Linked DNA regions of Homo sapiens. The protein of the gene in region 1 interacts with the protein of each later gene in a pairwise test. Each region holds a gene or a part of one and is shown in the gene's direction. Other genes may lie near its edges.

Region 1 (6,007 bases):
TCTACTGATGAATGCTCGGGAGGAGCAGGAAACAAGCCACCTCCATGTGAAAATGCAGGCTGTCTACTGATGAATGCTCGGGAGGAGCAGGAAACAAGCCACCTCCATGTGAAAATGCAGGCTGTCTACTGATGAATGCTCGGGAGGAGCAGGAAACAAGCCACCTCCATGTGAAAATGCAGGCTGTCTACTGATGAATGCTCGGGAGGAGCAGGAAACAAGCCACCTCCATGTGAAAATGCAGGCTGTCTACTGATGAATGCTCAGGAGGAGCAGGAAACAAGCCACCTCCATGTAAAAATGCAGACTGTCTACTGATGAATGCTTGTGAGGGAACTTCCGGAGGATGTTTTCAGGAAGAAGGAAGCTGAGCCCGGAAGGAAGAAGTATGGTGTAAGCAAGAACCACGCCTAGAGTTGTTGGTGGATGTGTGGCAAGTTTAAGCAAATACTGACTATAAATAAACAATGATGAGCAATGTGAGAGGAGCTAAGACGCTGGAGAAACTCCCACAGCTGACACCGGAGGGGCTGGGCAGGGGAAGAAGCTGTCCCCAGCTCCCTGCACAACTCTCAGCAGGGGAGGAATAGAGGGCCATCACGTGTAGACAACATTTGTTTAAAAATACACATGAAATGCATAAGGTTGCTGCTAAAAACAGGAATAGTGTATATAACTTCTAAGTCAGTCAAAGCAAAACAAAATAAAAACAAAAACAGAACCTTAAAAACTCCATCTAAAAGAAGAGGGGAAGGAAGCACTACCACAGGATGGTGAAATGCAAAGGGTGGTGGGAAGCAGCCCACGTATGTCAGAAATCACAGCAAACCCCACAGGCTTAGCTCATCGGGTAAAGAACAGAGACCCCAAAATATGGGAGCTTTTAAAGCAGCCCCACAGTAGTTACCTCACCCAGAAGCTTGCAGAAAGGCTGAAAGAAGCTGAATGAAAATGACTGCAGAAAAGGGAGGGAGGGAGGGAGGGAAGGAAGGAGGGACAGATAGAAAGCCCAGATGGCAGTGACTCTCTATCGCACGCCTCCTGGCCTGACAGTCCACGTCCAGCAGACAGTCACGCACCCCAGCACCCGCATGTTTAGAAAGTGCAAAAAGAACAATGGAGAAAATAAAGATATGAGCAGAACTAAATAAAAATGTTTAACACATACAACAAACAGAATCAACAAAATCAAAAGCTGGTCTTTCAAAAGACAAAGAAAATCAACAATATTTAGCAAAACCAATGAGGAAAAAAAGGGTCGGGCAGGAGAAAGAGCATGTATAACCTGAAGCAGGGATGAAAAACGGCAAATAGGCTGGGCACGGTGGCTCACGCCTGTAATCCCAGCACCGTGGGAGGCCAAGGCAGGTGGATCACCTGAAGCCAGGAGTTCGAGACCAGGCTGGCCAACATGGCAAAACCCTATCTCTACTAAAAATACAAAAATTAGCCAGGCATGATAGCAGGTGCCTATAATCCCAGCTACTCGGGAGGCTAAGGCAGGAGAATTACTTGAACCCGGGAGGCAGAGGTTGTGGTGAGCCGAGATCACACCACTGTACTCCAGCCTGGGTGACAGAGTGAGACCCTGCCATAAAAAAAAAAGAAAGAAAAGAAAGCAAATAATGACAAATTTAGCAGCTATTAAAAATAACAGGCTACTAAGCCAGGCGTGGTGGCACACGGTAGGGATTTGTAGTAGTCAAATGTGGTAGTCTGTAGTAGTCCCAGCTACTTCAGAGGCTGAGGACCACTTGAGGCCAGGCGTGAGTTCGAGACTGCAGTGAGCTATGATGGTGCCTGTGAACGGCCACTGCACCCCAGCCTGGACAACATAGCAAGATCCCATCTTCAAAAACAGAGGCAACTATGAAAAGTACATCCCAATAAATTTGAAAAACTTAGAATAAATGACATCTATGTTAAGAAGAAACACAGGAGGATGAGGCAGGAGAATTGCTTGAACTCGGAGGCAGAGGTTGCAGTGAGCCGAGATCACACCACTGCACTCCAGCCTGCGCAACAGAGCGAGACTCTGTCTCAAAAAAAAAAAAAAAAAAAAGAAGAAGAAGAAGAAGAAGAAACAAAAGGCTGGGCGCTGTGGCTCTCGCCTGTAATCCCAGCACTTTGGGAGGCTGAGGCAGGTGGATCATGAGGTCAGGAGACCAGCCTGGCCAACACGGTGAAACCCTGTCTCTACTAAAAATACAAAAATTAGCTGGGTGTGGTGGCACGTGCCTGTAATCCCAGGGGAGACTGAAGCAGGAGAATTGCTCAAACCAGGGAGTCAGAGGCTGCAGTGAGCCGAGACCATGCCACTGCACTCCAGCCTGGCAACAGAGCAAGACTCCATCTCAAAATAAAAGAATCCAGAAAATTCAAAGAACTTCAGACACCAATAAAAATAATAATGATCTTGGCCAGGTGTGGTGGCTCACACCTGTAATCCCAGCACTCTGGGAGGCCGAGGTGGGTGGATCACTTGAGGTCAGGAGTTCAAGACCAGCCTGACCAACATGGTGAAACCTTGACTCTACTAAAAATACAAAAATTAGCCAGGTGTGGTAGCACATGCCCGTAATCCCAGATACTCGGGAGGCTGAGGCAGGAGAATTGCTCGAGCATGGAAAGCGGAGGTTGCAGTGAGCCGAAATCGCACCATTGCGCTACAGCCTGGGAGACAGAGCAAGACTCTCCATCTCAAAAATTAATAATAATAACTATCTCAATTTTGTAAAGTGGGCCAAGGACGTGAAATTAACGAGACTCTAATGACAGGTGACCATATGGAAAGAGGCACAGCATGGCTAGTAACCAGGAAGAGGGAATATTAAACCACAGTGTGTAACACTGTGTTACACACCCACATGAAGGGTGTAAGTTGACAGTTGCAAGTTTTGGTGGGGGTGCCAGGAAACAGGAGCTCTCTGGCAATGCTGGTTGGACAGCAGCTGGCTGGGGGGATCCCTTGGGAAGACAGCTTGGTAACAAGAACCTCCTGACTTTCAGGCACCCACACCTGCAGGAGGGGTTTTGGGCAAGAAAGTTGCAGCTTGCTTGAAATAGCAACAAAAAGGAAACAAAAGGTCCATCAACAAGTAAATGGATAAGTCAATGTATATTTAGAAATCAGAGAAAACAAATAAATTAAAACCATATGTATCCCTAGAGAAAATCTCTTTAGCCTAACACCTATTTTTTTCAAAAGCAATTTACAGAAAGAGAAATACAGTGTAATACCCATTACATAAAGTTTTCAGCATGTAAAATTTTTTTTTCTTTTTTCTTTTCTTTTTTTTTTTTTTTTTTTGAGATAGAGTCTCACTCTGTTGCCCAGGCTGGAGTGCAATGGCGTGATTTCAGCTCACTGCAACCACTGCCTCCCAGGTTCAAGCGATTCTCCTGCCTCAGCCTCCCGAATAGCTGGGATTACAGGCACATGCCACCATACCTGGTTAATTTTTGTATTTTTAGTAAAGACGAGGTTTCACCATGTTAGTGAGGCTGGTCTCAAACTCCTGGACTCAAATGATCCGCCCACCTCAGCCTCCCAAAGTGCTGAAATTACAGGTGTGAGCCACCGCGCCTGGCCACAAAACATTTTTAAAGGAACATACATATTAAGTAGGAGTGTGAGGACCTTCATGAGAGTGGTGAATTCCAAATTCAAGAAATTATTAGGGTGGGACAGAAACAATATGGAGAGATGGAGGAACAGAGACTTCATTTATTTATGCCATTTTTTCCCAAGTTGAGTAGGGTTTTTTTTTACATTTTTTAAATATATTACTCTTTATACCATCGTTCAACTAAAATAGATCACTTTTTTTTTTTTTTTGAGACAGAGTCCCGCTCTGTTGCCCACACTAGAGTGCAGTGGTGTGATCTCTGCTCACTGCAACCTTCACCTCTGGGTTCAAGCCATTCTCCTGCCTCAGCCTCCCAAGTAGCTGGAGTTACAAGCATGCACCACCATGCCTGGCTAATTTTTGTATTTTTAGTAGAGATGGGGTTTTGCCATGTTGGGCAGGCTGGTCTCCAACTCCTGACCTCAAATGATCCACCTGCCTCGGCCTCCCAAAGTGCTGGGATTACAGATGTGAGCCACCACACCCAGTTAATTTTTGTGTTTTTAGTAGACACGAGATTTCACCATTTTGGCCAGGCTGGTCTCCAACCCCTCACCTCAAGTGATCCACCTGCCTAGGCCTCCCAAAGTGCTGAGATTACAGGTGTGAGCCACCATGCCCAGCCTAAAATAGATGCTTTTGTAAATCCAGTGTGACTCTGGAGTCAACAGGGAGAGGCTAGACCCTTGGGGGCCTCCATTAAGTCTGGACACAGATTCAGCAAGAGAGCAGCAGCCCACTGAGCAGCCCATACACCAAGGGGCGGATTTCTAGAGGAAACAAGAAAAAGGGGCCCTAAAAATGGCACAAACAGGAACCAGGAAATGTGTGCCCAGCCTCACACATGACCCTGGGCAGGGATATAAAGGGTCCAGGCTCAGGGAGCTCCACACCTGCACCTCCCTCTCACCTGCTCCTCTACCTGCTCCACCCTCAATCCACCAGAACCATGGGCTGTTGCGGCTGCTCCGGAGGCTGTGGCTCCAGCTGTGGGGGCTGTGGCTCCGGCTGTGGGGGCTGTGGCTCCGGCTGTGGGGGCTGTGGCTCTGGCTGTGGAGGTTCTGGCTCCAGCTGCTGTGTGCCCGTCTGCTGCTGCAAGCCCGTGTGCTGCCGTGTGCCAACCTGTTCCTGCTCCAGCTGTGGCAAAGGGGGCTGTGGCTCTTCTGGGGGCTCCAAGGGGGGCTGTGGCTCCTGTGGAGGCTGCAAGGGGGGCTGTGGCTCTTGTGGGGGATCCAAGGGGGGTTGTGGCTCCTGTGGGGGCTCCAAGGGGGGCTGTGGCTCTTGTGGGGGATCCAAGGGTGGCTGTGGTTCCGGCTGTGGGGGATGTGGCTCCAGCTGCTGTGTGCCTGTCTGCTGCTGCAAGCCCATGTGCTGCTGTGTGCCAGCTTGTTCCTGCTCCAGCTGTGGCAAAGGGGGCTGTGGCTCCTGTGGGTGCTCCAAGGGGGCCTGTGGTTCTTGTGGGGGCTCCAAGGGGGGCTGTGGCTCCTGTGGAGGCTGCAAGGGGGGCTGCGGTTCTTGTGGGGGATCCAAGGGGGGTTGTGGCTCCGGCTGTGGGGGCTGTGGCTCCGGCTGCGGTGTGCCCGTGTGTTGCTGTTCCTGTTCCAGTTGTGGCTCTTGCGCGGGGTCTAAGGGAGGCTGCGGGTCATCCTGCTCCCAGTGCAGTTGCTGTAAGCCCTGCTGCTGTTCCTCAGGCTGTGGGTCATCCTGTTGCCAATCCAGCTGCTGCAAGCCCTGCTGCTCCCAGTCCAGTTGCTGTGTCCCCGTGTGCTGCCAGTGCAAGATCTGATTTCTGGCTTTGCAGGACTCTTACCATGGCCAGGCATTCCTGCCCAGCCTTTACCTCCTTTTCCTGGCACCCAGTGAGCCAGACTCTCCTTCCCCACCCACTACCCTATCTCCCACCCTCCTGCCTTGCCAAGCATGAACACTTCTCTTTGACCTTCTACCAAGAAATGCCATGGGCCCATGCATCCAAGAAGAATGACTTTCAAGGCCTCCCTTCCAGGCATCTGGAGACCAGCCCCCCACCGCCCCAGCCACCTGCAGCAAATGCCTATCCGCAAGCCCTGCCTGCTGGCACCACATCCAGCACGGACAGCCCTGCAGGACAGCCCAGGGTGCTTGCTCACTCTGCAGTCACTAGGAGTTCAGATCTCTGTCCTTTAAACATCCAATAAACCGCTCACCCCAGCACCCCATAGCTGTCTTGGTATATTTATGTTTATTTCCCTCTCGAGGCAGGTGGGGGGCATCTGTGGCTACACTGGGTCCCCTGGGAACCACACACACACACACACACACACACACACACACACACACCGGCCCTGAACCAAACCGGAGCAGGCAGGTGGGCGCCCTGGCCAGCAGGGATCCTGGAT
Region 2 (7,029 bases), on another chromosome or scaffold:
TCTGGGTGTATCTGTGGACTTTGTGGGAGTAGCCATGTGGGACTCTATAGACCAAGGAGGAAAGCTTGCCTCTCTGCCTCCTTCTACTCCATTCATTTCTTCTCATCTAGAAGCAGGGAAATATGTCAGCCTCTCTGGGGCTTTCAGTTTGCCATACCTGGCTTCTCAGGACCACGCATTTGTCTTACTCACCTATGGTGAGTGTGCTTTCTTGGTGGGTCCAGCATTGCTGGTGTGCTCACCTCTGCTACTTTATGTTTAAGATTCAGAGAATCCACTTTGTCTGGTAATGATCTCTCTTCTTTCCACCAAAGTCATTCTTTAGAAATGGCACCATGAGGCCCTCTGTGTCTCTCATTGTGACTTTCTGATGGCTTTGCACAACTTCCTGGTTATTGCTCAGACCCTCTCACCTCCAGTCAACAATGGCATTCTTAAGTGTGTCCAATGCGCTCTTAATTTGGATGCAGGTCAATTTCTTCCTTGAAGAAGGAGGTACATTGAATGCCACACCGTGCCCATTTTCCTTTTTATTTCTGTGAATGACTGAGATGAGGGAATGATCTCTAGTATAAATGGTTTTTATTACACATAATTCTGTTTTCAAAGAGCAAACAGGCGTGATCACAATTACTCAACTTTATCATGGTTGTCATTATATGAATTTTGATGGACTGATCCATAAGCCCATACCTAGGTGATTTCTTTAAAGGCAGAGAGAAGAACAATATTGCCTGGGACCCCTTTCCCAGAAGTTTTTGGTTAGAGCCAAAGTATTCATTCCCATGTTGACTAAATCATATTTTGCTCACACTTAGAATGTTGAAGTCACATTACCATCCTTCTCAGACTTCTCTTACTGCCAATACCTAACGCTCCCCTAAGGTCATACGCACGACTTCGTTAAAGGTACCGTTGTCTCCACATTCAAGAGATGAGGAAACTGAAGTTTTGAGAGACTCTGAAGGGCACCTGGTCACTAAGCAGATCCGAATATTTCTCAAGTCATCCTGCCATTATTTTTCTTTCTTCGTGGGAGTTCCCTGCACTGTTTTTTGCACTGTCTTCAGGAACTTTACAATTCCACACTGCCGTTTCACCTCTCAGACTGTAGTTGACTTTCATCCTGAATCCTCATCTTCTCACAGAGGGTCTGGCACCTGGTAAATGCCTCTTATTGGTCTTGTGGAATGCATGACCACAGACCTGAAACAGTTATTTCCCACTCCTATTTGTGTTTATTTGCTTTGAAAGAGAAGAAAGGTGATAAGAAAACAATATTTAGCCATGTGTAATTTTTTTAAAGTTTCATTAGCAAGTTCATGAGATGATTTAATATTGATTTTGCTGAAACAGCCAAAATAAAAATGCTATTCCATTTCTGAGCAGTTGTGGTTTGGAATGCGTACCTCATCCTGTTTTGATATAGTTCTCACTCAGCCTTGGATCTTCAAGGGAATTACTGTGATTTTTTTTCCTTTCTTCTTCCATTGCAAATGCCTTGAGTCCATTTCATGCTCTGGGAGGGCTTCTACTGCATTCCCCAGTAGAAGACGGACCACGAAGGTGGTTAAGGAGGAGAGAACTAAACATAATCAAAATTTTCCAACTTAGAAGCCCATTTACATGGCGTCTAAAAACCCAAACATCTGGAAGAATCACTTTAATTTTGCTGTGAAATCAAGACCGTAAATAACACTATAAGCAATTGCAGTCCCTAACAAGACCATGCAGCCAATGGGCATGGATGTAACGTCAGTTGCAATGGCTCAGAACCGAACAGATTTCTCAGTAATTCTATATCAAAATAAGCCTTCTTGCCAATCCAGGATCTTAGAATGGGGATTGTTATTAAGATTGTCAGCAGAACATTGGTTTGGAGGTCAAGGGTAACATTTATATATTTTTGAATTAGAAGATAAACTGGGCCGGGCGCAGTGGCTCACGCCTGTAATCCCAACACTTTGGGAAGCCAAGGCGGGTGGATCATCTGAGGTCAGGAGTTCAAGACCAGCCTGACCAACATGGTGAAACCCCATCTTTACTAAAAATACAAAAATTCTCTGGGTGTGGTGACACGCACCTGTAGTCCCAGCTACTTGGGAGGCTGAGACAGGGGAATTCATTGAACCCAGGAGGCAGAGGTTGCAGTGAGCCGAGATCCTGCCATTGTACTCCAGCCTGGGTGACAGAGTGAGACTCTGTCTCAAAAACAAACAAAAACAAAAGATAAACTGTTCTACACATACAACACACAAACTTAGAATGATGAATTTCCAGTAGGATTTTGAAGTTAGAGGAGAAAATTAAAGAAATAGTCTTTAGAACTGCCAGCCCTTATGTTTCTCCAATTGATGGCATTGAGTAATAGAGCAAGATCCCAGCATTAGTCATTGTGTGTCTGTAACATATGTACAACAGTTAATATATTGGATATTTAACTGTAGCTCACAAGAGGGAAGATTTATAATATGAATTAATATTTTTGTTGATTCCTAATTTCCTATGGGCTAAAAAGAAATTGCTCTGAAAGTGAAAATAACAGACATTCTTATGTGGTTTTGCAGTTCCAGGCCAGACATCAAATAGCAAAGATTGTAATAAAACAAATAAAGAGAACCAAGTAAAATATGAAATCACATTTATATGTTTAGGGTTAAAAAATTACAAATGAAAATTTTATAATATCTGGCTTAATTTAACTAGATTTTTCAACACAGAGAGTCTCAGAATGACTTCTTTTTGATGAACCACGATTTTATTTTGATTTTTATTATGTATGACATAATGTGGCATATCCACCAATTAAACTGTCACTTAAGAGAAGGCAAATGTCAATATAGCATGTCCAGGCTACGTTCTCCTTCAGCACATATCTCTGCCCACTTTACGGTCTTCTTCCCCGTGGTCATCTATTTGTTTTCTTTTTTGAGACAGGGTCTTGCTCTGTCCCATAGGCTGGAGTGCAGTGGTGCACTCTTGGCTCACTGTAACCTCTGCCTCCTGGGCTCAAGCGATTCCCCTGCCTCAGCCTCCTGAGGAGCTGGGACTATAGGCACACGCTACAACGCCTGGCTAATTTTTTGTATTTTTTTTTTTAGAAATGAGGTTTTGCCATGCTGTCCAGGCTGGTCTCGAACTCCTGAGCTCAGGTGATCCACTCACTGTGGCTGGTCATCGATTTTCTTTCTCTTTTATGCTTCTGCCCAAATTAGAAGAAACTTCCTTTGCTTCTCCTTTTACCAAGATACTGACCGTGGATGCTGCTATTTCTATTTTAGCACCAGCTGAGACTCCCTGAAGGGTTTTCTAGTTTCTGTTCCTCACACTCCTTCCTTCTGCTAAAGTGTGGGTGCCCTGGGCCCTGCCCTAGAGCCAGCTGCATCATCTCTCACTGTTCCTATCCCTGCCCTAGCCCCCAGCCGAGGGCAGACATTTTTGGGGGGAAAGGGGTAGGCAAACTCTTAACATTTGAGGTTCTTAGAAAAGAGTCTTCCAATAATAACAAAGTTTCTGAAGGTGGAAGAGTTGTAGGTAAACACGATGGCCTGTGGTGTGTTTGATCAGGGGTTCAGAGCCCTTGAGTGCAGGTCACCATTAGGCCCATCTCATTTTGGATACCGAGTCTGCTGGATTTTAGTCACTTCTTAAAGGACAAGTTCACCAGTTTGTTGGCAAAAAAAAAAAAAAAAATGCTGTGGTATGTAAGTTGACCTTGCCTGCGTCAGGGTGTTTTGTTTATCTCTTACTCTGTTCAGTGATCAGTGAAGGCGCTAGAATCAAATAAATCCACCCTGCATACCAGCTGGGTGTCACCATGGACATTTGATTTCTTCTTGGGATTAGGGACATTGACTCCTGAAGGCTTTCCCTGCCCAGGTCAGGGTTGTCCCATGTATCAGCCCACAGTGGACCAGGAAGATGGTAGGCATTCTCCCACATCAGGCCCAAACCGACCTGCGATTTGTGACTAGGATTAGTGGTGAGTTGATGATATTGAGGGCTGAGTTGTGAAGGAGCAAAATCCTCCCACAGAAGAGACTCTTTCAAATTCTCTGCCATGAAAGCAACATTGTGCTGGACTTGAGCAGCCCTCCTGGTGGTGACCTGGGCTTTCAGGAGCAAAGCAGAAGGTGTGGAACCACTCCCAGGAGGCTGGGGAGGAGGATGGCACTGGGGAGGAGGATGGCGCTGGGGAGGAGGATGGAGATGGGGAGGAGGATGGCAATGGGGAGAATGGAGATGGGGAGGAGGATGGCAATGGGGAGGACGATGATGGGGAGAAGGATGAGGATGGGGAGGAGGACGGAGATGGCAAGGAAGATGGGGATGAGGAGGAGGACGGGGATGGTGAGGATGGTGATGGGGAGGAGGATGAGGATGGGGAGGAGGACGGAGATGGGGAGGAGGACAGAACTGGGGAGGAGGATGGTGATGGGGAGGACGATGATGGGGAGGAGGATGGTGATGGGGAGGATGGTGATGGGGAGGAGGATGGTGCTGGCTACCCTGTCTCCACTGAGGCAATGAGGCTTATGCACATCTTTTGCTAAACTCCCTCTTCCTACCATAAGCCTTGCGATACATATTTACGTTTTAAAGTAAAGTACTAATTAACATATTCGTAGCACTTTGAGCAAGGATGGAAACGTGTTGTTGGAGTGAGTAGACTAATAATTCTAATGTCTTTGGGCACGTTTTCAGTTTTAGAATGGTAGGGTTGATATTACCTCAATGGGGTCCCTGTGTTGGGCAGACACATATCACCAAATATTTTCCAATTTTACTATTTTATGATGCCCTGCTTGCATTTGGTGTTGTGGGTCTAATGTGCCACTCAAAATCTAACCCCCATGTTCAGTTTTTTTACACCTAATTACCTGGTTTTTTCTTTCTTCGCTCACATGGAACCACATTTGTGGCCCATCGCCCATCTTCAGAAGTGAACGCAGACCTGCCTGTGGCTCCCTGTGTCCAGCTTCTGTTGTCTGATTCCCAGTGTCTGTGCAGATTGATCCGTCTTCACATGAATCCACCCACACGCTTGCCCCCTTATTCCTCTGCCATGGCGTTTCTTATAACGTTGAGAAAAAAATGTAAATCTGAAGTCGTATCTCAGAACCATGTGTACAAACTTTCCTCACATTTATAGCGGTCACTGTAATATTCTTCCTGACATTAGCAATCGAATTGAGGGAAAATGACTTCATAAAATATAGTCACCTTTTAAATAAGAGAATTACTTTTAGATAGGAGATAGAAATTTCAAATAACAAAGGAAATTCCATATGTGCTTATAATTTTAAAAATAATTTGAGAGATCTGGATGAAAAAGAATCAGGCCAACTTTAGGGTATATTTTTGGTTTTGGTTGTATATTAATTCATGCCACATGGGATGTGGGTCTATGTAATCAAGAATTTTTTTAAGTACAATTAAAACTAACCTAAAATGTACCTTGGAAAAAAGAAGTTAGTATCCTTTCATTTTGCGGTGGCTGGCAGCTTGGGACTGTCAGATAAACCGTGCATGGCCATTCTTTGGCATTAAGATTCTGGGCTGTCCAGCTCCCTGTGTGTGACAAGCACTTCTGGACCCTCTAGAAGGTTTCATTACCTTTAATGAAGCATAAAATAAACACGTGCTTTTCTGTCATCCCTTCATTTCAAAGGACAATTGAGTTAAATTTTGTAACATACATATCTTTAGAGGGACAGTCATATTCTTCACTGTGAAATGGCCGCATCAAAGAAGAAGCAGTTAGCAGCCTATCAAATCCCATTCCGACCCTGGTCAGGACTGTGCCCTGTGGTCCTACATTCCCAAGGACAGTGAGTTTCAATCAGGATCCTGTCATTGCTGCTTCCTTGAGATGTGCTTATCTATCAGGAGGAGGAGGAGAAAGAGAAGAGAGAGAAGAGAAAAAAGAAAAGGAAGGAGAGAGAAAAGATGAAGGTAGCTTTTACTGGTGAATCAATCTGGATAATATGACATTACGGCCCTTTCAAAGACAGTCTAGGCCTCTGTCTTTGGAATACAAATGTACATAAAGTTTTGAACACTGAGCAAGAAAGATAATGTGAGCATTCTGGTGGCCTGCTGTCATGCCAGTCACCATAGAGCGAAATTTGTTCTAAGGAGAATTCCTCTTGGATCCTATATAAGAAGTTGTCAACTAGGAATGCTGAAAGGGTTTGTGTTTGAATGAAGGCTGAGAGTTGTGTAATCTTTAAACATTTATCTCTTAATGAATCAACAGGAACGGACATCATCTATTTTCCAGGGCCCCTTATTTAAGTATTTAAACAAGATGCTTAGGTTGTCAGCAGATGGGTCCCCTTCCCAGCCAGTCCTTCTCTTCCCTGTTCCTCTACCCCTTTCTTCTCAGGCCCTGGGTTCTCTCTTCCAGTATTTGGGGTGTTTGTGTAGACTAAATGAGATATTCATGTTGAAGTGCTGGATGCATGTAGTAGATGCTGCTTCCCCAGGATGTAAAAGAATGATCTCGGGCCCTGACACTTTCAGTTCCTTTTCTCCACCGGGTTCTGTTTGGAGCTTTGGTTCATTGATATCCTTTTAAGAATGTGGTCCCAACACCAGATATGGTCTTGCACAAGCATTTGGTCACTTAAACCCGAACGTGACCTTGTGAGGTGGCACTAGTTGGTGATCAGATAATAATCCTAAGTGTCTCCAAATTTAAGATTCTGCTAAACCAGTTTCCACCACTCATTGTTTTTTGAATTTTTTGGCACCCCCACATGATACTTTACGTATTATTTTTATTCAAACTAGATTTTCATCTTGATTCCATTATCCTAGGTTGGAAATACAGCCACCAGTTGATGCAAATGTGTTACAGGATCCTGTTTCTTCCCGTGAATGGGTTGGCCTTAATTCTCCCAAGCAATGGGTGTGGCTAGAGCTCACTCCCTCAGGCTACCTTTCCATTTGCTGCACTGATTTATTCCCCAGGGGAAAGCCCAGGAGAGCTGAATACTGAGCTTTCCCTCCCTCCCTCGGGTCGCC

Evidence for each region. The genes of interacting proteins can lie anywhere in the genome.
Region 2: the proteins of KRTAP5-1 (region 1) and SMOC2 interact in binary tests that used the Homo sapiens proteins (3 or more experiments, as listed by UniProt).

Annotation. Positions count from the first base shown.
Region 1 is NC_000011.10:1,583,821-1,589,827, reverse strand, and holds KRTAP5-1 (keratin-associated protein 5-1), read left to right. Parts: upstream 1-4,544; 5' UTR 4,545-4,578; coding exon 4,579-5,415; 3' UTR 5,416-5,486; downstream 5,487-6,007. UniProt on the Homo sapiens protein: In the hair cortex, hair keratin intermediate filaments are embedded in an interfilamentous matrix, consisting of hair keratin-associated protein (KRTAP), which are essential for the formation of a rigid and resistant hair shaft through their extensive disulfide bond cross-linking with abundant cysteine residues of hair keratins.
Region 2 is NC_000006.12:168,444,155-168,451,183, forward strand, and holds part of SMOC2 (SPARC-related modular calcium-binding protein 2 isoform 2 precursor), read left to right. Parts: intron 1-7,029. UniProt on the Homo sapiens protein: Promotes matrix assembly and cell adhesiveness. Can stimulate endothelial cell proliferation, migration, as well as angiogenesis.